Homo sapiens: one gene and its partners. The protein of the gene in region 4 interacts with the protein of the main gene of each other region in a biochemical or structural test. Each region holds a gene or a part of one and is shown on either strand. Other genes may lie near its edges.

The links.
Region 1: the proteins of EZH2 (region 4) and RCN3 form a complex in vitro, tested with the Homo sapiens proteins (one study listed by BioGRID).
Region 2: the proteins of EZH2 (region 4) and ZRANB1 form a complex in vitro, tested with the Homo sapiens proteins (one study listed by BioGRID).
Region 3: of the proteins of EZH2 (region 4) and AKT1, one has a biochemical effect on the other in vitro, tested with the Homo sapiens proteins (2 studies listed by BioGRID).

Annotation. Positions count from the first base shown.
Region 1 is NC_000019.10:49,530,972-49,538,002, reverse strand, and holds part of RCN3 (reticulocalbin-3 precursor), read right to left. Parts: intron 3,811-7,031; coding exon 3,608-3,810; intron 971-3,607; coding exon 798-970; intron 1-797. UniProt on the Homo sapiens protein: Probable molecular chaperone assisting protein biosynthesis and transport in the endoplasmic reticulum.
Region 2 is NC_000010.11:124,966,110-124,973,140, reverse strand, and holds part of ZRANB1 (ubiquitin thioesterase ZRANB1), read right to left. Parts: intron 6,548-7,031; coding exon 6,360-6,547; intron 1,177-6,359; coding exon 1,023-1,176; intron 1-1,022. UniProt on the Homo sapiens protein: Ubiquitin thioesterase, which specifically hydrolyzes 'Lys-29'-linked and 'Lys-33'-linked diubiquitin. Also cleaves 'Lys-63'-linked chains, but with 40-fold less efficiency compared to 'Lys-29'-linked ones.
Region 3 is NC_000014.9:104,785,718-104,792,748, forward strand, and holds part of AKT1 (RAC-alpha serine/threonine-protein kinase), read right to left. Parts: intron 7,006-7,031; 5' UTR 6,927-7,005; coding exon 6,881-6,926; intron 1-6,880. UniProt on the Homo sapiens protein: AKT1 is one of 3 closely related serine/threonine-protein kinases (AKT1, AKT2 and AKT3) called the AKT kinase, and which regulate many processes including metabolism, proliferation, cell survival, growth and angiogenesis.
Region 4 is NC_000007.14:148,806,883-148,811,322, reverse strand, and holds the end of EZH2 (histone-lysine N-methyltransferase EZH2), read left to right. Parts: intron 1-908; coding exon 909-990; intron 991-1,932; coding exon 1,933-2,013; intron 2,014-2,167; coding exon 2,168-2,252; intron 2,253-3,616; coding exon 3,617-3,677; 3' UTR 3,678-3,940; downstream 3,941-4,440. UniProt on the Homo sapiens protein: Polycomb group (PcG) protein. Catalytic subunit of the PRC2/EED-EZH2 complex, which methylates 'Lys-9' (H3K9me) and 'Lys-27' (H3K27me) of histone H3, leading to transcriptional repression of the affected target gene.

The DNA of each region.
Region 1 (7,031 bases), on a different chromosome or scaffold from region 4:
AAAAAAAAAAAAGAGGAAGGAAAGAAAAAAAAAGCCTTCTTCTATAGAACAAAGCACATTTTGGGGCCAGGCACGGTGGCTCATGCCTGTAATCCCAGCACTTTGGGAGGCCAAGGTGGGCAGATCACCTGAGGTCCGGAGTTCAAGACCAGCCTGGCCAACATGGTGAAATCCCATCTCTACTAGAAAAAAAAATTAAAAATTGGCCGGGCACGGTGGCTCATGCCTATAATCCTAGCACTTTGGGAGGCTGAGGCGGGCGGATCACCTGAGGTCAAAAGTTTGAGACCAGCCTAACCAACATGAAGAAACCCTGTCTCTACTAAAAATTAGCCAGGTGTGGTGGTGCGCCCCTGTAATCCCAGCTACTCGGGACGCTGAGGCAGGAGAATTGCTTGAACCCGGGAGGCGGAGGTTGCAGTGAGCTGAGATCGCACCACTGCTTTCCAGCCTGGGCAACCGAGGGAGACTATGTCTCAAAAAAAAAAAAGAAAGAAAAGAAATTGTATAAGGTGGGGCACAGTGGCTGTCTGAGGGAAGGCTGGGGGCCTGGACCCCAAATGCGAGCACAGGGAGGGGAAGGCCAGACGAGGAGAGATCAGACCCCAGGGGACTGAGAGTGGAGGTGGGAAAGGTCACCGTCCTCTGACCTGTGTTTGCGGCCTGGCTTCCCCGGCAAGATGCTGGAGAACCAGGTGACTGCCTGCCCCCAGGTCGGTGCTGGGAAGCAGGACCTGAACCGGAAGCCTGGGTCCCCGGAAGGGTGTGGGGGACAGGGTTCCCCAGCCGCCACTCACAGCAATCACGATGTCCCGCATGTGAGGGAACTCCTCGGGGTGCAGGAAGGCTGTCAGCTCCTCTCGAGTGGCCATCGAGTCCCCATCCTGGTCGGCCACCCGGAAACGCCGCTCGTCCCGAGCCAGCATCTTTTTGTAGGTCTCTGCATCCTCCACGTCATGAAATTCTTCACCTGGGGAAGGACAGGTCTCAGTGAGATGAGCTTTAATGGAGGAAACGCCAAGCAGGTTAAAACAAAGACAAAGTAAATCCTACTGGGGTACAAAGATTTCTGTGGAGTTAATAAGTATATATCAGTAGGCTGGATGCAGTGGCTCACGCCTGTAATAGCAGCACTTTGGGAGGCTGAAGCTGGCAGATCACTTGAGGTCAGGAGTTTGAGACCAGCCTGGCCAACATGGCGAAACCCCATCTCTACCAAAAAAATACTTAGCCGGGCATGGTGGGGCACGCCTGTAATCCCAGCTACTCGGGAGTCTGAGGCACAAGAGTCGATTGAACCCAGGAAGCGGAGGTTGCCGTGAGCTGAGACTGCACCACTGCTTTCCAGCCTGGGCGACAGAGGGAGGCTATGTCTCAAAAAAAAAAAAAAAAAAATTTTAGAAGCCTGGCACAGTGGCTCACACCTGTAATCCCAGCACTTTGGGAGGCCGAGGTGGGTGGATCGCCTGAGGTCAGGAGTTCGAGACCAGCCTGGTCAACATGGTGAAACTCCTTCTCTACTAAAAATACAAAAATTTGCCTGGCATGGTGGTGGGCGCCTGTAGTCCTAGCTACTCGTGAGGCTGAGGCAGGAGAATTGCTTGAACCCAGGAGGATGAGGTTGTAGTAAGCCGAGACCTTGCCATTGCACTGCAGCCTGGCCAACAAGAGTGAAACTCCATTCCATCTCAAAAAAAAAAAAAAAAAAAAAAAAGTAGGCCGGGTGCGGTGGCTCAAACCTGTAATCACAGCACTTTGGGAGGCCGAGGTGGGCAGATCACCTGAGGTTGGGAGTTCGAGACCAGCCTGACCAACATGGAGAAACCCCATCTCTACTAAAAATACAAAATTAGCCAGGCGTGGTGGCGCATGCCTGTAATCCCAGCTACTTGGGAGGCTGAGGCAGGAAAATCGCTTGAACCCGGGAGGCGGAGGTTGCAGTGAGCCGAGACCACGCCACTGCACTCCAGCCTGGGCAACAAGAGCAAAACTCCCTCACAAAAAAAAAAAAGCATATATTGATACTTTATATATAATTTGTATATATATTTAAGTATATAATATGTTATATAACATATTATTAGTATGTGTGTGTATATCTATATCTATCTATCTATCTATCTATCTATATATATATATATTTTTTTTTTTTTGAGACAGAGTCTCACTCTGTCGCCAAGGCCAGAGTGCAGTGATGTGATCTCGGCTCACTGCAACTTCTGCCTCCTGGGTTCAAGTGATTCTCTTGCCTCACCCTCCAGAGTAGCTGTGATCACAGGTGCACACCATCACGCCCAGCTAAGTATTTTTTTGTGGTAAGACGGGGTTTTGCCACATTGGCCAGGCTGGTCTCTAACTTCTGATCTCACGTGATCCACCCACCTCGGCCTCCCAAAGTGCTGGGATTACAGGCGTGAGCCATGGCACCCAGGCTATGTAACATATTATATCCACCCAATAAATTAGCTAACTTGTGAGAGATTATATGCTAAGCTCTTTATGCACAATATTGCATTTAATCATCACAAAAAAGCACATACAGTGGGTTTTTCCATGTATTCTACTTTCTGAATGCAAAAATTGATTCTCAGAGAGAAGAAATAACTGATCCAAGCGTGTGGAGACAGGAATGGCCCACTATGAGTTGACAGTGGGCCTTTTGGCCCCAGACTAAGGCTGTGATGGGGTAGCTTACAGGGACTGAGATGGCTTGACTGAGAGGAGGGGACGGGCATTGTAACTGGAGGGAACAATATGGGCAGAAGGTAGAGGTTTGAAGAGTGTGGTGAGTTCAGGAAAACCACAGAAAATCCATTTGGTGCAGAAAATGCAGAAAAACAAAGCCACAGGAGGAAACGTCCCGGCTGGGGAGTGGGACCGTCTCCTGGGGGCCCAGGAGGGGGAGGGAGGGGCAGAGTCAGTGCTGGGCATGAAGAACCCCGCCCCCGGAGCCCTGTGGAGGACAGACTGGACGGGGAGGCTGGGGCCAGGGACAGAGAGGAGAGGAGGGAGAGAATGAGGGCTGTGTGTGTGGCAGGGTGTGGGGCACTGAGGCTGGGACTTGGGACAGAAAGGAGGGATCTGAGAGTCAGGGGCTGAGTAACTGGCTTTGGGGTTCTCAGGATGAGAGGTCACAGAAGTTAGGGGTCAGGATGACAAGGCATGGAAAGTAGGTGTCCTTGGCCAGGGATCTCAAGTACCCTAGTCATATTGTCACAGAGGTGGTGAGTCCCAGAATGAAAGCCCTGAAGGGAACCTGGGTAGCTTAGTTGGTAGAGCATTGGACTTTTAATTTGAGGGCCCAGGTTTCAAGTCCCTGTTTGGGTGCGTTCAGTGGCTTTTAGCACCTAATTGTGACTTCATGTTTGAAAAAAAGATCGTTTTTAGCATGCAGCTAAATACCAGAAAAATAAGCAGACGAAAAACAAAAAAGAGAAGCCAGAGGTGAGAAACTGAAGATCTCACAGTTATGGGCTCCTAAAAGTGGGTAGAGCCTGGTTAGGGGCCAGGGACTCCGGGTAAATGGGTTCAGGGTTCTCAGAATGAGGCGGTCCAGAAGGTCAGGGTCACGGTGTATGGGGAGCAGGGTCGGGGGCTCGCCGCGTACCGGGCGCGTAGTGGCCATAGGTGGCGTTGCGCAGCTCCTCCCAACCCACACGCCCGTCGCGGTCCGTGTCGTACGTGTCCCAGGCCGCGCTCACCGAGTCCCGTATGTGCCGCTGCTGCGTGTGCGCGATCCACGCGCGAAGCTCGGCCAGCGACACCCAGCCGTCGCCGTCCCCCGCGCGGTCCATGCGGTCCACGATCCGCCTAGAAGCCGGGGCGGGCACACGTCAGGCTCTGGTCCCGCCCCCAGGCCCCGCCCCTCGCACGGGCCACGCCCCCTGGGACACTTCGGATCCGGGGCTGAAAATACAGTCCACGGTCCGCGGGCTAACTGGGGAGGGGCGCGGGTCAATTTCGGGACCAAGCCCACCGGAGGACCCTACCCCTCAGCCTAGGGTCCACCCCCAGGTCGAGTCACGCCCTTCTCCAGAACGAGCGGGCCTGCTGGGAGCACTGCGGGGGAGGGACCTACTACGATGCAGGGCCACCCTCTCCGCGCCGGCCCCGCCCTCGGCCTGCACGTGCTGCACCTCTCGCTGGGCCGAGCTGGGGTGGTGAAGGGGAGCGCGGCGTCGCACTGTGACCCTTGCCAAGGGGGCCCTGTTGCAAGATTGACTCTGAACCCAGACAGCCACGGCCACACCCCCGATCCCCCGCTGTCTCAGGCCCCGACCCGCCCCATGCCCCTCCCCCTTACCAGGCTGCGCGTGTCAATTTCAGGCTCCTCTCCCTCCAGCCCTGCCCTGTGCTGAGCCCCGTGGCTTTCCCCTGCCTGCTCCCGGCTGAATCAGGCACTGCCTGAGGACCATCACCCGCAACCCCGGGGGCTCAGTCTCCCTCTGCCCCTCCCCATGCTCCTCCGGGCTCCTGTGCCCCTCCCTGTCGCATGTCAAGCCACTTTAGGTTCCATCTCTCCCCTTCTCTTGGGCCACGCCTATCAGCTCTCGGGCCCCTCTCCTCTCCCTTGGTGACGCCTTGCCAGGCCGGTCCTCTCCCAATCTCTAATTAACAGAGACTACCTGGAGCCCTCCTCCCTGTCACCGTCCCTAGGCCCCCGCGGCCCCCTCCCTAAAGTCGAAAATCCGAGACAGCAGAGCCCTCTCCAGGCCTGCCTGAGTCACCGCCCCACCTCCCGCACCAGGCGGTCTCTGCTCCAGTCTGTCTAGGGCCCCACTCTGTCCCCGGAATCACACCCTTCTCTGAGGTTCCTGGTGTTGTTAAGCGCTTGGGCTCCACAGCCAGACATTTTAGGTCCAAATCCAGCCACTTCCTCTTACTGGCTGTGTGACTGTGGGCAAGTGACTTAACCTCTCTGTGTCTCAGTTACCCCTCTGTAAAACGGAGGAAGAAAAAACGGTACCTACCCCAAAAGGGCGGTTGTGGGGAATAAATGAGTTAGGCCATGTAAAGCACTTAGGACAGGACAGGCGCGGTGGCTCACGCCTGTAATCCCAGCACTTTGGGAAGCCAAGACAGGCGAATCACTTGAGATCAGACGTTCCAGACCAGCCTGGTCCACATGGTGAAACCTTGTCTCTACTAAAAATACAAAAATTAGCAGGGCATGGTGGCACGCACCTGAAATCCCAGCTACTCTGGAGGCTGACGCGGGAGAATTGGTTGAATCTGGGAGGTGGAGGTTGCAGTGAGCCGAGATAGTACCACTGCACTCCAGCCTGGGCAACAGAGCGAGACTCCGTCTCAAATAATAATAACAATAATAGGCCGGGCACGGTGGCTCACGCCTGTAATCCCAGCACTTTGGGAGGCCGAAGTGGGCAGATCACCTGAGGTGAGGAGTTCCAGACCAGCCTGGCCAACATGGTGAAACCGTCTCTACTAAAAATACAAAAAGTAGCCGGGCACAGTGGTGGATGCCTGTAATATCCACTACTCGGGAGGCTGAGGCAGGAGAATTGCTTGAACCCAGGAGGCGTAGGTTGCAGTGAGCCGAGATCGTGCCACTGCACTCCAGCCTGGGCAACAGAGTAAGACCTTGTCTCAAAAACAAACAAACAAACAAAAAACACTTTGGAGGCCGAGGAGGGCGGATCACAAGGTCAGGAGATCGAGACCATCCTGGCTAACATGGTGAAACCCCGTCTCTACTAAAAATACAAAAAATTAGCCGGGCGTGGTGGCAGGTGCCTGTAGTCCCAGCTACTCGGGAGGCTGAGGCAGGAGAATGGCGTGAACCTGGGAGGCGCAGCTTGCAGTGAGCCGAGATCGCGCCGTTGCACTCCAGCCTGGATGACAGAGTGAGACTCTGTCTCAAAAAAAAAAAAAAAAAAAAAAAGGCCAGGCGCCATGGCTCACGCCTGTAATCCCAGTGCTTTGGGAGGCCGAGGTGGGTGGATCACGAGGTCAGCAGATCTAGACCATCCTGGCTAACACGGCGAAACCCCGTCTCTACTAAAAATACAAAAAAATTAGCTGGGCGTGGTGGTGGGCGCCTGTAGTCCCAGCTACTCGGGAGGCTGAGGCAGGAGAATGGCATGAACCCGGGAGGTGGAGCTTGCAGTGAGCCGAGATCACGCCACTGCACTCCAGACTGGGAGACAGAGCGAGACTGCGTCTCAAAATAATAATAATAATAACAATAATAAAGCACTTAGGACAATGCCTGGCATTGCCATTAGTGCTAAGCTAAATGTGCTAACCTGTCACTGCCCTTCTTCCTCCATTTCTCCTTCATGCATGCCCATCCAAGCACAATCTCCCAGCCAGCAGTCCTGGGGACCACTGCCACTGTCTCCACCCTGATCTGACCACCATCTTGTCTTGTCTTCCACCTGGACTATCGCAGTCGCTTCCTCACTGGGCTCCCTGCTTCTTGCTCCCTACAGTCTGTTCCCCACCTCGCAGCCAGCAGGATTCTCTCAAAACCTAAGTCAGCTCATGCCCTCCCTCAGTTCTACTCTCAATTGGAGAAAAGCCTAAATCTTCATCGTGGCCTAAAAGGCTTTGCATTGCATGATCTGACCCCCTTTGCATGGTCTCAGGCAATCCGCCCGCTTTGGACTCCCAAAGTGCTGGGATTGCAGGCGTGAGCCACTGCACCTGGCCCTCTCTCTTTTTGAGACAAAGTCTTGCTCTGTTGCTTAGGCTGGAGTGCAGCGGCATGATTTTGGCTCACTGCAGCCTTGACCTCCCAGGCCCAAGTGATCCTCCCTCCTCAGCCTCCCTAGTATCTGGGACTACAGGAGCACGCCACCATGCTGGGCTAATTTTTGTATTTGTTTTGTAGAGGCGGGGTATCACTATGTTGCCCAGGCTGGTCTTGAACTCCTGGGCTCAAGTGATCCCCCAGCCTTGGCCTCCCAAAGTGCTGGGATCACACACATGAACCACCATGCTGAACCCCTTTGCTCCTTCTCTGCCCTCACCTCCCACTCTCTCCCCTTTCTCACTGAGTTCCAGCCACA
Region 2 (7,031 bases), on a different chromosome or scaffold from region 4:
AAATCTAATCATTCTGGGGTAAGCTTAAATACTCAGAACAAGTGCATTTCAAATGAAACTTCCTCCAGTTTCAGAAAACTTAGTTACTATCTCCTACAATTTGTAAAAATCCGTTTGTCTGAACATAAAAATTAAAAACACTGAGATCTAGCCTGAGTAATACTGCGAGACTCCATCTCTACAAAAAAATTAAAAATTAGCCAGGGGTGGGTGGCATGTGCCTATAGTCCTAGCTACTCAGGAGGTCAAGGCAGGAGATCACTTGAGCCCAGAAGTTGAAGGCGCAGTAAGCTATGATCACGCCCATTGCACTCTAGCCTGGGCAACAGAGCAAGACCCCGTTTCAATCTAAAAAAAAAAAAAACAGCAACAAAACAAACAGATCTCAGAATCTCAGATGAAAGATTTTAGAAACGTTTGGTGTTTGGTGTATTTATTCAATGCCAACTGACAAAACGCATTCTGGAGGATGTTTTCAACTGTCAATGAATTGAAAAATGAAAAGTTCCTTCACAAACATAGTAGAAATAAATGAGTAAAAAAGGAATGACATATTCAAGAGGATGCAGTGTGTTCAATTCAAATAACCTGACTCTACCCATCAAAAGCTCATGTTCTAATCCCATCTCTTAATACCAGGTAACCAATATAGCTATCTAATTTCAAATAACACACAAGCATGAAAAGGGAAAATTTTTCAAAGGAGATTTTTTTAAAGGATATTCTAAAATAAAACCAAAGAGAAAAATAAAAGAGTACAACAGATTTTTAAAAAATAATCTGAGGTCCACAAAGAAATCCGTTACTATCAACTGCTGTCTTCCTCTCAGATAGCAGACGCATTTCCTAACAAGTAATCCTCTGTATGCTCACTTCCAGCATATATAAGACAGTCAAGTAATTTAAGATGCACATACAGTAGCTATGTTATGTGCTTTCTAACAGAAACATTTTTCACCTACATACACAAATGTAACTATAATAAAATAAAAAAGTCTTTTTACGTTAGATTTTGGAGTTACCTGCTGGCAATGTAAATGTTACAAGGTCAGTCAGAAAATAGCAAGCAAAATCCCCCTTTCTCTGATGAAGAGAGGCAGCTATCTCTCTCCGGATTTGTTCTGTCAGTTCAGGACACACCATTGCTGGAATACACTTTGCTGCTTGTTGAGACACCTTAAATACAAAAGAAACCTTCCTCTCATCTCATGTATCATAAGTGGAAGCAGAAAACAACAGTATTTAAAAGAAATCAGCAAAATTTCCCAATAACTCAAGGTTTTCTTTAATCTTAAAATACACTGGTATTATTTCCTTACCAATGAAAGTATATACCAGAATAAGTTTTCAGTAACAGTCACAAAAATGTTTTATCCTCTGATTCAGTAATTCTCTTTAAGAATTTATCACAAGGAAATACTCAAAGATGCACATAAAAATGTATGGAAAAGGGTGTTGTTCATAGACACATCACAGGAAGAGGAGAGAGGACAGAAAACCTCAGTAGACTAACCATCGTGCACACAATAAAAACATTCTTTAGAAGCAGAGAATCACAGCTGATAAAGGGAAACTGCAAATACTCTTCTCCCACACCACAAGTTTCAAGTACCCTAACTTGGACTTAAAAAAAGCACGGTATTTAAAGGGTTAGTTCCCACTGACCTCAAGCCCTTTCTTCCTCTCCATTTGTTACCACTCTTGAGTTTTTAAAAAAGCATTTGGCATCTGCAAGTTTAAACACAGACTGCCAACCTCTGAAGCTCAGCCTGACAGGAGTGAGATGGGAGCACTACTGCACAGGCCTCTAAGCAAGAAAACAACAAACCAAAGAAGGCTAGAACTTTCTTTTGTTATTTTTTTATTCTTTTTAAAATGCTAAATAGCAACAAATGTTGCAAAGATTTAATTTAACCTCACATTTCAGTCATATCTAGTTTGTGGAGCTAAATAAAAATACATACACAGAATTCTAAAATCACAGTTGAGCATCTGCGAGTAACAAACAGAATTCAAGGCCAGGCACAATGGCTCACGCCTGTGATCCCACCAACTCTGGGAGGCCGAGGCGGGTGGATTGCTTCGGCTCAGCAGTTTGAGACCAGCCTGGCCAACATGATGAAACCCTGTCTCTACTAAAAATACTACTACAAAAATTAGCTGTAGTCTCAGCTATTTGGAAGGCTGAGGCATGAGAATCACTTGAACCCGGGAGGAGGAAGTTGAAATGAGCTGAGAACGCGCCACTGCACTCCAGCCAGGGTGACAGAGAGAGACTCTGCCAAAAAAAAAAAAAAAAAAAAAAAACCCCAAAGAGAATACCGTGGGAACCCACAGTGAGCCTGTTCCCTGATGTCACCAACCTGGACGATTATCCCAAAGGTAGCCTTCCAGCCACAGTGGGGTGTGAAGCAACAGGTCTTCCAGCCCCTTCTTCTTCTTCTCAAAGAGTAAGGTTTAATGATAATGTTATCTACATCATATATGCAGACAACTAACTGCTATTGCTATTAAAGAAATAATATTTCAAAAACCCTGCATACCCAGCACAGTTACCTGACTCCCTATTCTGAAACTGCAGCTTGGTGCAGTGGCTCACACCTGTAATCCCAGCACTGTGTGAGGCCAAGGCAGGAGGATCATTTGAGCTCAGGAATTCAAGACCAGCCTGGGCAACATAATGAAACTCTGCCTCTACAAAAAACCCCAAAATATTAGCTAGGCATTAGTGGCATGCACCAGTAGTCCCAGCTACTGGGGAGGCTGAAAGGTGAGAGGATCACTTGAGCCAGGGAGGTCAAGGCTGCAGTGAGCCATGATCACTCCCCTGGGCAACAGAGAGAAAGTCTGTCTCAAAAGAAAAGAAAAAAATAAAAAATTTAAAAACTCCTACGTGGAAATTCAGTTCAACTAGACTTTATTGGCCAAGATTACCATTAACCATGAAAATTCTCACTATATCTTAACTCCATGAGCCCAACCATTAGTCAACACTCAAACATGGAAAACCAAATATTAAATATTTTCAGAATATAATTGACTATTTCTCAAGTAACATAGTTAAAATGGCTCCCCCAAAGTAAATTCAAAAATAGCTTATTCCCATCAGCTAGCTCTCAGGCCCTTTCCAAAAACCTGGAAAGACCTTTCCAAAAACCACCTGGACTGGACCCTGACTACCACAAACATTCTAAAAGAAACTTAGCCCCCAAACAACCCCTTCCACCACCATCCTTAAGCAGGATGTGCCCCTGAAGCCTGCCACTCACCTTCTCACCTCCTTCAACCTTATGGTTCTCAACCATCTCCGTAGGCTGGGAGTTCTTAACTTAGGGTCCATGATCTTGGGAATGGTCCATGTACTTTAATGGGAATTTGGTTTTAATTCAAGTTAAATCAATTATCCCCAACTTTTTACCTATATTAAAATGTATTTTCTTATATATCACAAATTTAGTTTAGTATTTTGGTAGCTATTACTTCAATACAACTGATTTCCTTTGTAATCTCATTTACTTCTTATTTTTTGTATTTAAAAACAGTATTCTGGGAAGGAGTCCATAAGTTTCATGAAACTACCAACATGGTCCATGACACAGAAACCGATGAAAATTCCTGCCCCACATACATATCCCCAACTCTAATGTTCTCCTGTTCTCATTCCAAAAGAACTTGGCTGAGCATTCTCTGCAACACACCCCCTTAGTCTAGACTTAGTCCAGACTCCCCCACTTCCAGTCTCCCTACTGGCCCCTTTAATTCTGTCCTTTGGAGTATTTACTCCATGGAGACTGAATCCATGACCAATTTTGCTCTTTGCCTGGAACAAATCCCCTCCACCTCTCCCACGCTGTTCCAGGGTTGTTCTACACGTCCCACGGAATACAGCAAAAGTAATGGTATGTTGCTTCCTAAATCAATTTATAAAAGACACTGCAGGTTTCAAAGACACTGGATCACTCTCTTGTACTCTGTGCCTCTCTTGGATCACTTGTTGGGGGTAAAACCAGCTGCTGTATCATGAGCATCCCTGTAGACAGGCCTGCATGGCACAGTATTGAAGCCTCCTGCCAAAAGCCACCTGAGTGGGCTTAGGAACAGATACTCTAGCCCCAGTTGAGTCTTTTGACAACTACAGCCCTGGACCACTTGACTGCAACCTCATGACATCATGAGCCAAAACTATTCAGCTAAGCAGCTCCTGGATTCTAACCCTCACAAACTCTGTGAGATAACATACATTTGTTGTCTTAGCTGCTAAGTTTCCAGACAATCTGTGATACTGCAATAAATATACTGATGTTCGATCATCATCCCACTGTTACTCCTCAGACTGTCTCAGGAGCTCAATGACTCACAATGGCCCCTCTAAAACCTTGTAATAATCTTCTACCTACCTTTAGGGGAGCCCCTTAAGACTTTCACCCTAGTTCACAACCACCTTCTTTATCCTGGCTCCTGTCACCACCAGCAACTACAACTCCACATTGACAGCCCTTCCAATATACAATAGACAACACAACTAGGCACCACAACACAAATGCAGCCAGGCCTTCGACACTAGAAAAACTCCAATTCTTCTATCTCATGTTCCAAAACCTGGATCCCTCTATCTGAAAAGTTCCCTTCTCCCTTATACTCAATAAGCCTGCCCTTTTGTTTTCATCATGGCCTTCAGTCTCTCAAGCCCCCCACCCCGGCTTCACTGGAATCTTACCAAACTGGACACAGGGGTTAGCTACTACAATCATGTTTCCATCTAACCTTCAAATTTTTTAATCCCCATACAGTGCCCTGCAGTGGTTCCCAAATATTGGCAAATTTGAATAAACAAATATGCAAAAGTATATATGAAAGATGTATACTGACAAAATTTGAATCCACAATTAATATGACTCTCTGCACTTTTACTCTATTTCTCTTACCATTAAAAAATGTTACCTTGGCCAGACACGGTGGCTCATGCCTATAATCCCAGCACTTTGGGGGGCCGAGGCGGGCAGATCACTTGAGGTCAGGAGTTCAAGACCAGCCTAGCCAACATGGTGAAACCCCACCTTTCTAAAAATACAAAATTAGCCAGGCATGGTGGCATGTGCCTACAATCCCAGTTACTTAGGAGGCTGACAAAGGAGACTCGCTTGAACCCAGGAGGCAGAGGCTGCAGTAAGCCAAGATCGTGCCACTATACTACAGCCTGGGCAACAGAGTGAGACTCCAGCTTAAAAAAAAAAAGAAAGAAAAAAAAAACCTGGATAATGTAGTCACATTCTGAATAATTCATACACAATCTCTATCATTGGTAGCATGTACCTAGTTATGTAAGCCAGAAACTGAAGAATCAACTTACATCCACACTGTATCTTCCCATATCCAATCAGTCTACTTCTTCAGACTGAGGGCCTGTCTCAGTCTCTCCAACCCTCTAACCCTCTTCCCATTTCTAAGGCTACCCTTCTGGGTACCCTTCTATGGCTACCCTTCTGCCCTTCTGGCAGAAGTTCTTGCCAGCACCTCTGCAACTCCCTCCTAACCAGGCTCACCCCTCTCCAGTGTGCAGCAGCCAAAACACAATCTGCTCTGCTCACTCCCCTGCGCCCATACCTAACACCATCCAGTGCCTAGGGATAATCTTCAAATTCCTTGACACAGAAGATCCTTCGTAATCCAGCCTCTGCTTATCTTTCAGACTTCCCTTCTCTCCATTCCCAATCACCATCTCAGCCATGCTTAGTTACCTGCAAGTCCCTAGATTCACCACAAATTCCACCATCTCTGCCCCCTGTAAAAATGCTTTCCTCAACTTCCCTTCTCTCCCTTATCCACTTCATGTGGCTAACTCCTAACTCTTTCTCTTCAAATTGCAGCAAAAACATTACCTGCTATAAGAAAGACGACAAGACACCTCAAAACTCTTCAAGTACTGGCATAACACTTGGCATTTACATCTACCAGGGCACAGGCTGCACAGAATTACCTGTTCATTTCTCTACTTTGCTGGAGATTTAATGAAGAAAGAGCCAGTATCTTTACAATTGTATCCCTTCTCAGCCTAGTGCATGGCACACAGTAAATGCACAATAAATATCTGTTAATTGAATGACTAAAGAATGACAGATACATCCCAGGTTTGTATGAACCAAACATGATGAGTCAAACATTGTTGTGACTATTCAAATATTTGAAAGCATATACCCTTAAAAATTAAGTCTCTTAAGTTTAATGTTATTTTTAAAAGGGGGTAAAAGAATTCAAAACATTTTAAAGCTGCTTAGAGAAACATTATAAAATCAAAAATGAAAACTAAAGAACAGGTTTCTTTAATATAAAAGAACATTTAACCAAAACGCCAAACTTACCTCTGTAAGCAATATTGCTAGCATATCCTGCCTCTGAAAACGTATAGCCAAGTGTACAAGAGTATAGCCAACATCAAAGGCAGAAGGACGATTCAGCAAGCGTACTTCATCTGCGGTGAGCTGACGTGCAATGTCTCCTCCTGATGACTTGTATGCTTCTATGGCAGCTAAATCACCTTCTACAACCCCTAAAACAAGCATCAAGATAGAAAAGCATTTAATTCTCATTTTCTTCAAAAAACACAAACCGTAGCAATCACTCCAAAATCTTTTAAGTGTTTCTCTGTGCTTCCTGGATCCTGATGCATCATTTAAATGTCCTATAAGAGTAAGGAAAATAAGTTTTTTCCTTTCCCTTTAAAAATTTTCCTTCCAGAACTAGAACTGCCTAGACATTTACCTTACCATCAGTGCAGGCTCCAGGCTCTGGTGAGATTTAGAGGAACTATTAGGCTGCATGAATTGGATCGAAGATCAATAATCTAGTATGAGAAACCAGACGTAACAAGAGACACTGAGCCCCTGGTTCCGGTCCTGCGTTCATCCTGACTCTGCAGAAACCAAGGAGACAGGGATGTGCTTCCAGCTGGTGTTGAGCTCCTCCTGCCCTTTACACTGCATTCTTAAAGCAGAATCAAAACAAATGCTGAGCTTTCCATACTGCTCTTTAGC
Region 3 (7,031 bases), on a different chromosome or scaffold from region 4:
TGCAAATTCTTCACCTCCTTCCGCTCCACCATGGAGCAGGCCTCAGCCCGACACACACACCCCGGGAGGAACATGGTGCGGGCAGGCGGCACCACCATGACCCCGTCCACCTCGCTGAGGCACAGCCGGAGGCGCTGGGGCCTCTCTTCCTGCCACTCCAGGGAAGCACCTGGGTCTCAGCTTTCCATTCTCCTGGGGCTCTACTGGGTGGGGTACTGGGCCTCCCTGGTGCTGCCCCTGACAGACCACCTGGGCCTGGATGTCCTCCCCCACAGGCACTGCCCGTCACCCACCCCTCGGGCCGGCAAAGGCACCCCACCTGCCACACACCCATCCATCGCAGAGCCCAGCACATCCCAAGACCCTGTCCCTGTCCCTGTCCCCCACCTCATTTTTGGTCTGCCCCAAACAAGCCCCACCCATGTCATGGCCCACCCTGCCTACTCAGGACCCCTGCAGATGAGGCTGCAGCCCCTCCCTGGCGCCTCCTACTCTGCCCCCGCCCACTCTCCCCATAACTTGCAGCAGGCTTTGCCAAGTGCCCTCCACCCAGTGGGTTCCCAGGGCCCTCACCCTCGCTCCCTGCGTGGGAGGAAGCTGGGCATGGGGACAGCACACAGTGCCTGCTGCGAGGGAGGGCTGGCCACAGTGTCCCACGTGTAGACACTGCCCTCGGGAAAGGAAGTGGGCACGGGCACAGGCTCCTTCCGGGGCTCGGCCGGGGGCACGCAGCCATGCCCACAGCCCCTCCCTCCTCCCGTCTCTCTTGGGCAGGGCCCCTGGCGGTTGAAGGGCTCCAGTGCTGGCCTCTCAATCCCTGACACCCCAGGAAAAGTGCCCTGCATTGCTGGGGGAACTGGAACCAGGCAGTAGGGACCTCGTCCTCCACACCGACCATGGGAAGCACCCGCCACAGAGGGGCCTTCCATCTCCCCACCATCTTGTTTCTGCCCCAACTTGGAGCCACGCCTGGGGCAGGAGGGCCCCCAGAGCACGGCCAGCTGTGGAGGGTGCTCCTTCTGATCCCCCGGCCTGCTGGGACATTGTGGCCCTGACCCCCGTGGCCTCACCCCACACCTCACCAAGCTTGTGCAGCTCAGCGTCTCCGCGCCCTACACCTGGCTGCTGTGCCCCTGGCCCCAGTCTGTGGGGAGGCCAGCCAGACCCTGGCCAGCCGAAGGGCCTCTCTGCATTCTCCAGGCCCAGGGAGCAGCCACCTCCCCGCCAGGCCTGCCCAGGGGGTGTCTCCACCCCTGAGCTGGACAACCAGCTGAGGGCCTGGGCAGGTGGGCCCGCCAGGTTACAGGGTATGGGTGGGGTCTGCAGTCACCGGGCCCGCCTGGGGGGTGTGTGAGCCCAAACACAGCGCCCCAAGGATCCCACCCCAAAGCCCGCAACATTGGCAGCAGAGTCACCCATGAACTCCCAACCCCCTCAATTCCAACGTTTCTGAAATCCAAACCTATCATTCCTTAAGGTTCAAGGAAAACACACCTAAAGGCGGCATGGCAGGGAAGGGAACTCCCGTTGGAGATGAGGAAGTAAGGGGCCTAGGGTTCGCCTAACAGCCCCATCCTGGCCTGGAGCCCCAGGGCCCTCTGCCAACCTGCCCGGGGCCCCAGCGCTGGGCTGGGGGAACCTTCTCCTGAGGCCATGGGACTAGGCACAATGGTCCAAGCAGACAGAAGCAGCAGGCAGCTGCCCACCCAGGGTGGCCTGGGGAGCAGGCCCAGAGCCACAGCCACAGCCACCAGTCTCAGCTATGGGAGGGCCCGAGGGCAGGGTGCTGGCCCCAAGCCGGGCCGGGTGTGCCCAGGCAGAGGGGACGCCAGCGGGGGCCGCGCCAGTTCCCTCCGCTCAGCCTCGTGCAGGACTTCTAGGAACCCGGCCTGATGCAACCCGGCCAGGCTTCTCCTGAGAGTGGAAGGTGTACGGGGGTCTAGGCCCCAGCACAGGAATCATTCCACCCACATTCTGTCCACTCTCCTGGGCCTCAGTTTCCCTTCCCGGAGTCCAGCCCCCCACAGGGCATCCCTGCCCAGAGAGGGCCAGTGACCAAGAAACACACAGGAAGAAGAGCTGTCCACTCAGGAGCCACCAGGCGTGGGGGCTAAGGTCCAGGGCTGGGGCCAGCAGTGACCCCTCACCCCCACTCAAGGCCACCTCGGCTTCCTCTTTTGTTGTTTTTGAAGTGAGAACTCAACAAGCTCCCAAAACAGGAACCTCCCTGATGCTGGCGGCCTCCACCACAGCCATGCCATGACCTCCACCAGCCTGTGCCTCCTGCCCCTCTCCCGGGTAGGCCCAGGGCTGTTGGGACCCCCACTCTCTGCCCAGCCCTCCCACCAGGAGCCAGCACACTTGCCTCCCCATCTCTGTCCCTGGCCTGCCCACGGGGGCCGTTCCAGACCCTCAACGCTCCCCCAGGGGAGGCAGAGCTTGGCACTAACCAGCCCAGGGCCCGCGGGTCTCACACTGAAGCCACCTAGACGCAGCCTGGGGTTGACCCTCACCTGACAGCCTGGGAAAAACTGAGGCCCAGGAGGCACAGGCAGCCCTGGCCTGGAGCCCAAAGGTTCCCACAGGCTGAGGGGAGAGTCTGCGGGCTCCCTCCCTCAGGGTCCTGCTGGGCCCCTCATCCTGGCGGGGTAATGAGCAGCCTCCATCTGCACACAAACAATTAGCCCTGCGGGGCCCTCCGCAGCAGCTGCTCTCTGGAGTGGGCTCAGAGTCCCCCACAGACCTCTTCTCAAGGGTGTTTACTCAGCAAAGCCAAGGCCTCCTCCAGGATGAAGGGGAGTGGCCTGTACCCTCTGAGGTCCCCCACCTCACGCAGGGACCCCAGGACCAGCTGGATGGCTGAGCAGCAGCTGGGGATGCAGTGAGGTTCTATGTCGCTCACCAAAGCGAAGTAACACACTGGGGTAGGAACCACTCTCTCCCTGCCTCAGTGCCCCCCCGCAGGGACAGCCAGTGCCAGGACTTCAAGGCGGGGAGAGGGGGTGGGAAGGAGGCCCAGCCTAGGCACCTGCTTGGGGTCAGAGACCAGCCTCCATACTCCCCACCGGGACGCCTGGGGCTAACTCAGCAGGAGTGGTGAGGGGGCTGCCCTGAGGCCTGGACTGGGGGGTCTATGCCAGGCATGGGCCCGGGGTAGGGCATGGCAAGGACTCAGATGTCCGGAGACTGGACCCTCCGTGAGCCGCATGGACACACGGTCCCGTGTCACCCGGGCCCGGCCAGGCACCCAGATCCGTGGCTTGGACACGCTGCCCACACACTCAGGAGCGTCTGCCGCGTAACCCACGCGCCCCAGGCAGCTTCCCTCGACCCCCGCCCACTCGGCCTTGGCCTGCTGGGTCACAGCCTGCCGAAGGCAGCCAGGCCTGCAGCTCTTCCCCGGCCCCTCTCGGACAGCGACCAGCCTGAGGGAGTCCAGGTGGTGCCCCTGCGGCCGGCACCCACTCCTGGCCTAGGCCCAGCCCTTTCTCGAGAGCCCAGAGCACCTCATCCTGGGTCCCAGCATCCCGGCCACCCGCCTCGGCCCTCTCCTGACCCACTTGGTCCAGCCATGTGGACGGGGGGACGCTCAGGAAGACAGCCGCGAGTGGACAAAAACAGGCTCCAGGCCGGGGCTGCACCAGGGCAGCTCTCCACGGGGCTAGGCTGCAGCCAGGCTGGTGCACGGCCCCAGGAGTACTGGGGCAAGCGGGCAAGGTGAGCAAGCTGTTTGGGGAAAGTACCTCAAAAGAGCCACACAGCCTCTGGCCAAAGCCTGGCACGGAGCTATCAAAGGAAGGAAAACTGCAGGCTGGAGGCCGAGTTCAGCCAGACCTGCGCCCTGGCCCAGGATTGATTTTTTAAAATTGTCAGCCTTCAAAAATCAGGAGACTTCACACAACAGAACAAATCTTTGAAAATGCAAACGTCTGAGCAACACTGAGCCCACCAGACCACCAATGGCCAGAGCTGAGCTGGGCTGCTTATCCAGTGAGACAGCCGAAACAGGAGGGGACATCTGGCCCCCTGTCCCTATAGGCCCCACCAGCCTCCTCACTAGCTCCTGCCCTTAACAGCCTAAGCTCACCCTCCAGGAACCATCTCCCTGTTAGATGTGCAGACCCAGAGGCCTCGCCTGGGTCCAGCCACAGGTCCACACAGGCCTGCAGCCGGAACTCCTGTGTCCCCATGCCCGGTCCCTTCTGTCCCTGAAGCTCCTCTGACTCAGAGCACACACATCAGAACAACAGAAAGCAGCCTGGGCCACTTCCCAGAGATGACGCTCACCTCCCAAGGAGCAGGAGAAGGAGCCTGCAGACACTGCCACCCCACCCCTCACACACAGGGCATACCCGTCCCCTCTCATCTCAATGACCACATCACCCCTGAAGGCACCATCACGCCACGTGTGGCCAGCCCAAGTAGCCGTGGTGGGACTGTCACCTGGGGATTCAGCTGAGAACCAAAGTGCCCCAGGCCACGGTCGTGGGGAGTCCCGGCAAAGGGGACAGGTGCGGGCCAGCCTCTGAGACAAGCACCCTGACCTGCAGGAGCAAGGCTGGGGGGGAGTGGAACAGGGCGTCTGCAAGGGGCTGCGGCCGGGCCTGGAGGACAGTCACTGCGTCCCTCCCTCCCTCCCCACCCCCAGCCAGGCCTGAGCACTGTGAAGCACGGGTGGGGTCAGCCCAGCACAGCCCTGCTAGGGACAGGAAGGCAGCTAGTACCTCTAACCAGTGTTGCGGGTGGGGCTGGCCCTGCCAGGAGGGTGGCACAGCACATCTGCAAGACACACAGGGGACCCCAGGGACGGGAGTGGCGAAATGCGGCAGGCCCCGGAGGACAGGCTTTCCTCCGCAAGGAGCGGCCGGCCATGCGGGTGGACGCCACCTGCTCTCGGCAACAAGAGGGGCTATGCCTGCCAAGGGCATATGTCATATCCACGCCACCTCCCATCCTCAGCGCCCACTACACTGGGGATGGAGGAGGAAGAGCCGGGGGTAGAGGTACAGGACCCTCTCTCCTGGCCTGAGGCTAGGGGCCAGATGACAGAGCCCAGAGGCTGCTGAGGCTGGCCGGACCCCAACTCAGGGCCGCCCACAAGCCATTCTCCACTCCACCAGGTCTCTCTCCCACCACCGCTCCCTGGTGTAGATGGGGAAACTGAGGCCCAAGGAGCTCAATGACCTTGCTCTTGGAAAGGGTCATGGCGATAGAGTGGCTAACCAGGGTTCAAACTCAGCTCTCTGGACGCCCCACTGGGCCTGATGTCCTGTCCCTGCCAGGCCCCTCCTGAAGGCACGACATCAGCAGCAGCCTGAAAATCACCTGGCCTCGGGGGAGCACTCCTGCCTAGGCCCAGCTGGCTGATGGGTGCCCCAGTAACTGGGGCCTGGGCCCCTGGGCAGTCAAGGCCCTGGCATCTCCTGGGTCAGCCCGAGATCCAACAGTCTATCAACAAACACACATTTGCCAAGGATAAAGAAGCAGCGGCCCCAGGCAGCAGACTATGTGACACAGAGAGGAACAGGGCCAGGGTCGGGGCAGGGGGTCCCTGACACCAAAGAGGGCTGTGAGGTGAGGAGAGGACCTCCAGGCACAGGTGGCAGGACTCCTGGGGAACAAGCAGGGGACAGCACACGGGGAGGGGATGGAGAAGGCAGGATGCGGCAGGAGGCCTTGGGGGGAAGCAGAGCCAGAAGCTCCCCAAGGACCACAGGCGTCTGCAGCCTCCTTGTCTTCATCTCGAGGCCCCGCGTGCCATCACTGGTAGCTGCCCACTCAAACACTCCAAACACACAGCCAGCCACACCCCTGATTCCCCCAGCATCTCATCTCGGTCACTCCTTCACCCCACCCCCAGGCTCCTGTGGCTCCTTAGGCCTGCTCTTCTGTGAGCTCCTATACATCCCACAATGCCCCATCTTGTGACACCTACTTTTGCCACACCTCCCTGTCTGCTCCAGCTGTGTTTGGGGTCTCCCCACTACCAGATGTGAAACCCATCTGCTAGAGGGTGTACGTAAAGCCGGGGGGCTGCTGGCATGAGATCACTAGAACTTAGGAGGGAACAAGTCTGGAAAAAGAAGTCAGGAGAGGGCGGACCGATTCCGCCTGGGGCAGAAGAGAGTGACTTGGCCAGAGGACCTGGACCTGAACAGGAAGCCCACCCTAGCAGGACAGAGGAGCAAAACAGCCACCCAGACTCCACCGCACCCCGCTGAGCAACGGAGGGTGGGTGAGGCAGAAGGGCCTGCACAGGGTTGGAAGGGGTGGGGCTATGTCCCCAGCTCCCATCCCACCCAGCTGCTGGCCAGGCCCCTCGGGCAGCACCTCCTCCATAGGCTGCAAGGCCAAATGAGTGAGGAGGGGGACACAGGGGCTGGGGGACTTGGCTCAGCCAGCTCTGCAGCTCCAAGGCAAACATGCCCTGTGCCCAGGCGGTACGGATTCCCCCCACCCCCAAAGCTCAGGCCTGAAGCAGGCACCAGGCCAAGCCAAGCAGCCCTGCCCTGCCCTCAGGAGCCCTTGGGCAGTGCCCTGGGCCGCCAGCGTGCCAGACCCTGGAACAGCCCAGTGTCCTCGCTGCCTTCCAGGAAAGCCAGGAGAGAGGCTGGCAGCAGCTCCCCCGCCTGCCAGGGCCCACACCAGGAAGCCACTCAGATGGCCGGCCCTGCACAGGGCCTCATCCTCCTGGCCTCCCCGAGGCCGTGCCCTCCATGCCATGGGAAGACATGGGGCCCAGGACACTCACCCTAGGCCAGCCCAGGAGCCCCAGGGGAGGCAGCCCCTCCCACCCAGCAGGGCACAGGCACTCACAGACCCTGGGGCTACTACCCCCATCTCTCCCTCCCCAGGCCCAGCCCTGGCAGCGGGTACTAACCTCGTTTGTGCAGCCAACCCTCCTTCACAATAGCCACGTCGCTCATGGTGCCCGAGGCTCCCGCGACGCTCACGCGCTCCTCTCAGGCTGGCGCTCCCCGAGCCCAGCTGGCCTGGCCACAGCCTCTGGGAGAAGCAAAGGAAGCTGAATG
Region 4 (4,440 bases):
AAAAATTAGCCGGGCGTGGTGGTGCATACTTGTAGTCCCAGCTACTTGGGAGCTGAGGCAGGAAGATCGCTTGAGCCTGGAAGAGCCTGGGAGGTTGAGGCTGCAGTGAGCCATGTTTGTGCCACTGCACTCCGGCCTGGGCGACAAAGTGAGACCCTGTCTCAGAGGGGAAAAAAAGCAAAACAAAACAGGATTGCTTGGTTCTAGCCACATTTAGTTTTTCTCGTCTAGGGACAACAGGGAGAACAAGAGCTTTACCATAGAGTGGCCTGCTTAATCCACAACCTAGTTGATAAGGACCTAGAAACAACAACGTCATTAGTTATTCACCTTTTAAATTGTCGACAGTGTTACCGAAAAATCATAGGCCTAGCTTCAGTTTGGAACCAGCTCACCCAAATTTTTTTTTTTTTTTTTTTTTTTTTTGAGACAGAGTTTCGCTCTTGTTGCCCAGGCCGGAGTGCAATGGCGTGATTTTGGCTCACCGCAACCTCAGCCTCCCGGGTTCAAGCGATTCTCCTGCCTCAGTGTCCCGAGTAGCTGGGATTACAGGCATGCGCCACCGCGCCCAGGTGATCTGCCCGCCTCGGCCTCCCAAAGTGCTGGGATTACAGGCGTGAGCCACTGCAGCCGGCTTTTTTAAAAAACTCAGCAAAAAGACTTTGGTTCCTCACTTTCTCCAAGGATAATTACTTCAGGATGTGGAAATATTTCTGAGTTGGGGTCCTTAGTATACAGTTATTCTTTATTACTGCGCAGACCGAATGGGAAAGAGAACTTGGCTGTAGTGACCCTTTTTGTTGCGTTTTCTCCAGAAGGTCCAGTATTCACTCTGTGCGCTTTTGTGTGTTCTGTCAGGCTTGATCACCTTTATCCAAAAGAATTTTCTCCTGTGTCTTTCTTTTTAGATTATTTCTCAAGATGAAGCTGACAGAAGAGGGAAAGTGTATGATAAATACATGTGCAGCTTTCTGTTCAACTTGAACAATGGTATGTTTCAGAGCTGGGAGGCAGTGAGTTCCTGAGTTGCATGTGGCAGCCTTCTGCCGGCCGAGTGTTCAGAAACGAGGGTAGAGGTCAGTGAGGTGACCAGAAGGAGGATCTCCTTAGAGGCATGGGGGGCTGCTTGCTTGAAAGGAACTGGAGCAAGGAATTCCTCAGGGAGCAGATAGACTAGATGTGCAGGAAACCGCCTCTCTGGAGTCCCGGCTGTCTGTGGGTGGCACTATCCCAGCATCTGGCTGTGAAGGGGACGTTGTGCTCTTGCTGCTCACCTCACCTCTTGTGTTCAGGCAGCTCAGCACACCTCCTCCAGTCAGTGCCTCTGAGCGGGGAAGGAGGGGAGGAGCACTGCATTTGCAACCATCTTCCAGACTCCCCTGGATATTCTCAAAGGACTGAGAGGAAAGGCAGCTGCTTTCATAGCTGATGTTCTGGGGTAGAATGTAAGGCTGTGTAGGGATGTTTCTGGTGGGATTATGTGAAAATGGAGGTAGGCTTAACATGTAAGATATTCAGAGAAACTCTTAGTTGGAACAAGTAGAATAGGTTTTTTTCTATGAATGCTTTATAGACATTATAATGAAAAAAACTAATTTTAAATGTGAAAATGCCTATTCGTGATGTTTGGAAGAATTTTGTCAGATTTTTTTTTTTTTTTGCTATGTTTTGCTCAGTAATGTATGTTTATAGTTGATAATTAATAGCTTTTGAGTCAGATAACCATCTTGAATTATAGGTGATTAATTTTAACCTGGAACAATAGTGTGTTCTTCCAAATGTCATTTCTTACTGAATGAAGCTGCTTGATTTATTTGCTTTTGCAGGCAAACCCTGAAGAACTGTAACCAGTTGCATTTACAAAATCATAATAACTTGGTTTACTTATAACTGAAATTATTCACTGGGCTGTGCTTACTTTTTTCTTTTTAGATTTTGTGGTGGATGCAACCCGCAAGGGTAACAAAATTCGTTTTGCAAATCATTCGGTAAATCCAAACTGCTATGCAAAAGGTAGGTACCTTTGACGTGAGAATTGGAACTCCCTTTTCAGTCCTGTGATGATGGACTTGAATACTTCTGGGATAGTTGTTTGTTATGTGAACAAGTCAGTTAACCCCCCGTGGCCCGTCTTCATGCTCACTGACACCAGTGTGTCTCTTTGCAGTTATGATGGTTAACGGTGATCACAGGATAGGTATTTTTGCCAAGAGAGCCATCCAGACTGGCGAAGAGCTGTTTTTTGATTACAGGTTGGTAAAGTACATTTCTAGCATGATCTCTAAGGGCTTTTTCTACTGGATTGTGAACTCTGGACAAAGGAGGGTTTTTAGTTCTTTGCTTCTTTTGATGGGTCACTTTGCCATGAGCATTAGTGGGGAATTAGGTTACACTTTCCTGTTATGTATTTATTATCCATTTATATATTATACAAGGCATGCTTATTTTTAAAATAGAGTAAAATCCATGCAGAAAGCCCCATTTCTCACCCTGCTGTTGACAGCTGGGTGAGTCCTAGACCTTCTCATATCATGCCGCATGCTGCATGCTCACTCGTGGAGCGTTTTCCAGATAAGTGCGATCACACTGTCCTATAGATTTTTCTGCAACATGGTTTTACTTGACAATATACTATGCATATCTTTATGGATTAGATCTACTTAATTTATTGTTTGCTATAATACTTATTACACATATCATTACCATTTTAAAAGGGGCTGTTGGCAAATCGCTGTCTGATCACCCTGTGGGGATGCCTGGGACACGTGGGCCACCAATGGTATCTGTGTGGTTAGGCATTAGGCTGCCAGTTGACACTGTCAAGCTCTGTGGGATACATTTAAGTCAGCCATTGAATACAGATTTAAGTGCAGTCAGATGACTGTCTAGTTAATGAACTCCTGTAGCCCCGTGTACATCCCATCCAGAAGCTGTCTTTGAGTACTGTGTTCTTGCATATTCAGGCTGGCCTTTAATGGCTGTTGCACAGCAGCGAGCTCTCAGTGAGGCAGACAGGGTCTGAGTGAAGGGCCCACTTTAGCAAAGGCCGCTGCCTTCACTCCAGGCTGGCTCTGAATGAAGAGTGTGGGGTGGAGCTTCCTTGGGATGACCCGGTGGCCTCACCCCCCATGGTGGGCTTCTTGTGCTCCTCTCTGGGTGTCCGCTGCACTCCAGTTCTTGCTTCACCTGGGGGAGCAACTGGCGGGCTGCTCTTTGGCCCTCTTTGCTATGGTCATCATTTTTTCCAGACCATGGTTCTATTTTGCCTTCCCAGCGTCAGGCCTAAGCATCCTGATGTGGACCAGCCTTCCTGGGACCACTTGCTTCAGAGGCATAGGGGAGGCTGGTCAGGCTCTGGGAATGCTTGTAGACAGGTTTGTTCACTTCAGAACTTGGCAGCGTCTCAATTAGATGGCCAGCAACACAGACCTATGCATTGCCTTCTATGAATGTGCCGTTATGCAGGCAGCTGTGTAATTGGATGGGTTTTTTTTTTTTTTTTTTTTTTAAAGACATTTTAATGCACCCACTATCTTCAGCAGGCTTTGTTGTGTTAAGTCTCAGCACATGTTGGATGGGTGGCCATCCAGCGGACATCTCCTTCCTGTTGTTTCAGATACAGCCAGGCTGATGCCCTGAAGTATGTCGGCATCGAAAGAGAAATGGAAATCCCTTGACATCTGCTACCTCCTCCCCCCTCCTCTGAAACAGCTGCCTTAGCTTCAGGAACCTCGAGTACTGTGGGCAATTTAGAAAAAGAACATGCAGTTTGAAATTCTGAATTTGCAAAGTACTGTAAGAATAATTTATAGTAATGAGTTTAAAAATCAACTTTTTATTGCCTTCTCACCAGCTGCAAAGTGTTTTGTACCAGTGAATTTTTGCAATAATGCAGTATGGTACATTTTTCAACTTTGAATAAAGAATACTTGAACTTGTCCTTGTTGAATCATCTCTCATAACGTGTCAATAACTGCTTTCAGGACTGCTCAACAAAAAACTTTTAAATTTAACTCCTTGGGTTTTTTAGTTGTCTTTGTATGAATCTTGATTTAACTAATACTGCCTGTGAATATGTGGAAGACATATATGAAGAACACTGCTGTGCATCCTGAGGGCTTACCCAGTAAAGGGCTTGATCTTATAGACAAGACCAGGGTGGGTACGTTCCAGTCAGCTGTGCAACCTGGAGAAAGAGATTTAACCTCCAAGTCTGTTCCCCATATATAAACTGACAGAGTAGACTTTTAGGTTATTTTTAAGAACGTACCTAGTTCTAAACTCCATTAGTCTAGATAGAGTTCTTTAGAAACAAACACAATATAAGTTGGGATTCCTTACCTACCTTATCACAAAAGGTGATTGATAGGTATAACCAAACTGTAGTTTTATATCTTCTCAGAGGTAAAAATCACAAACTCTGAAAGCGTCAAGGAAACG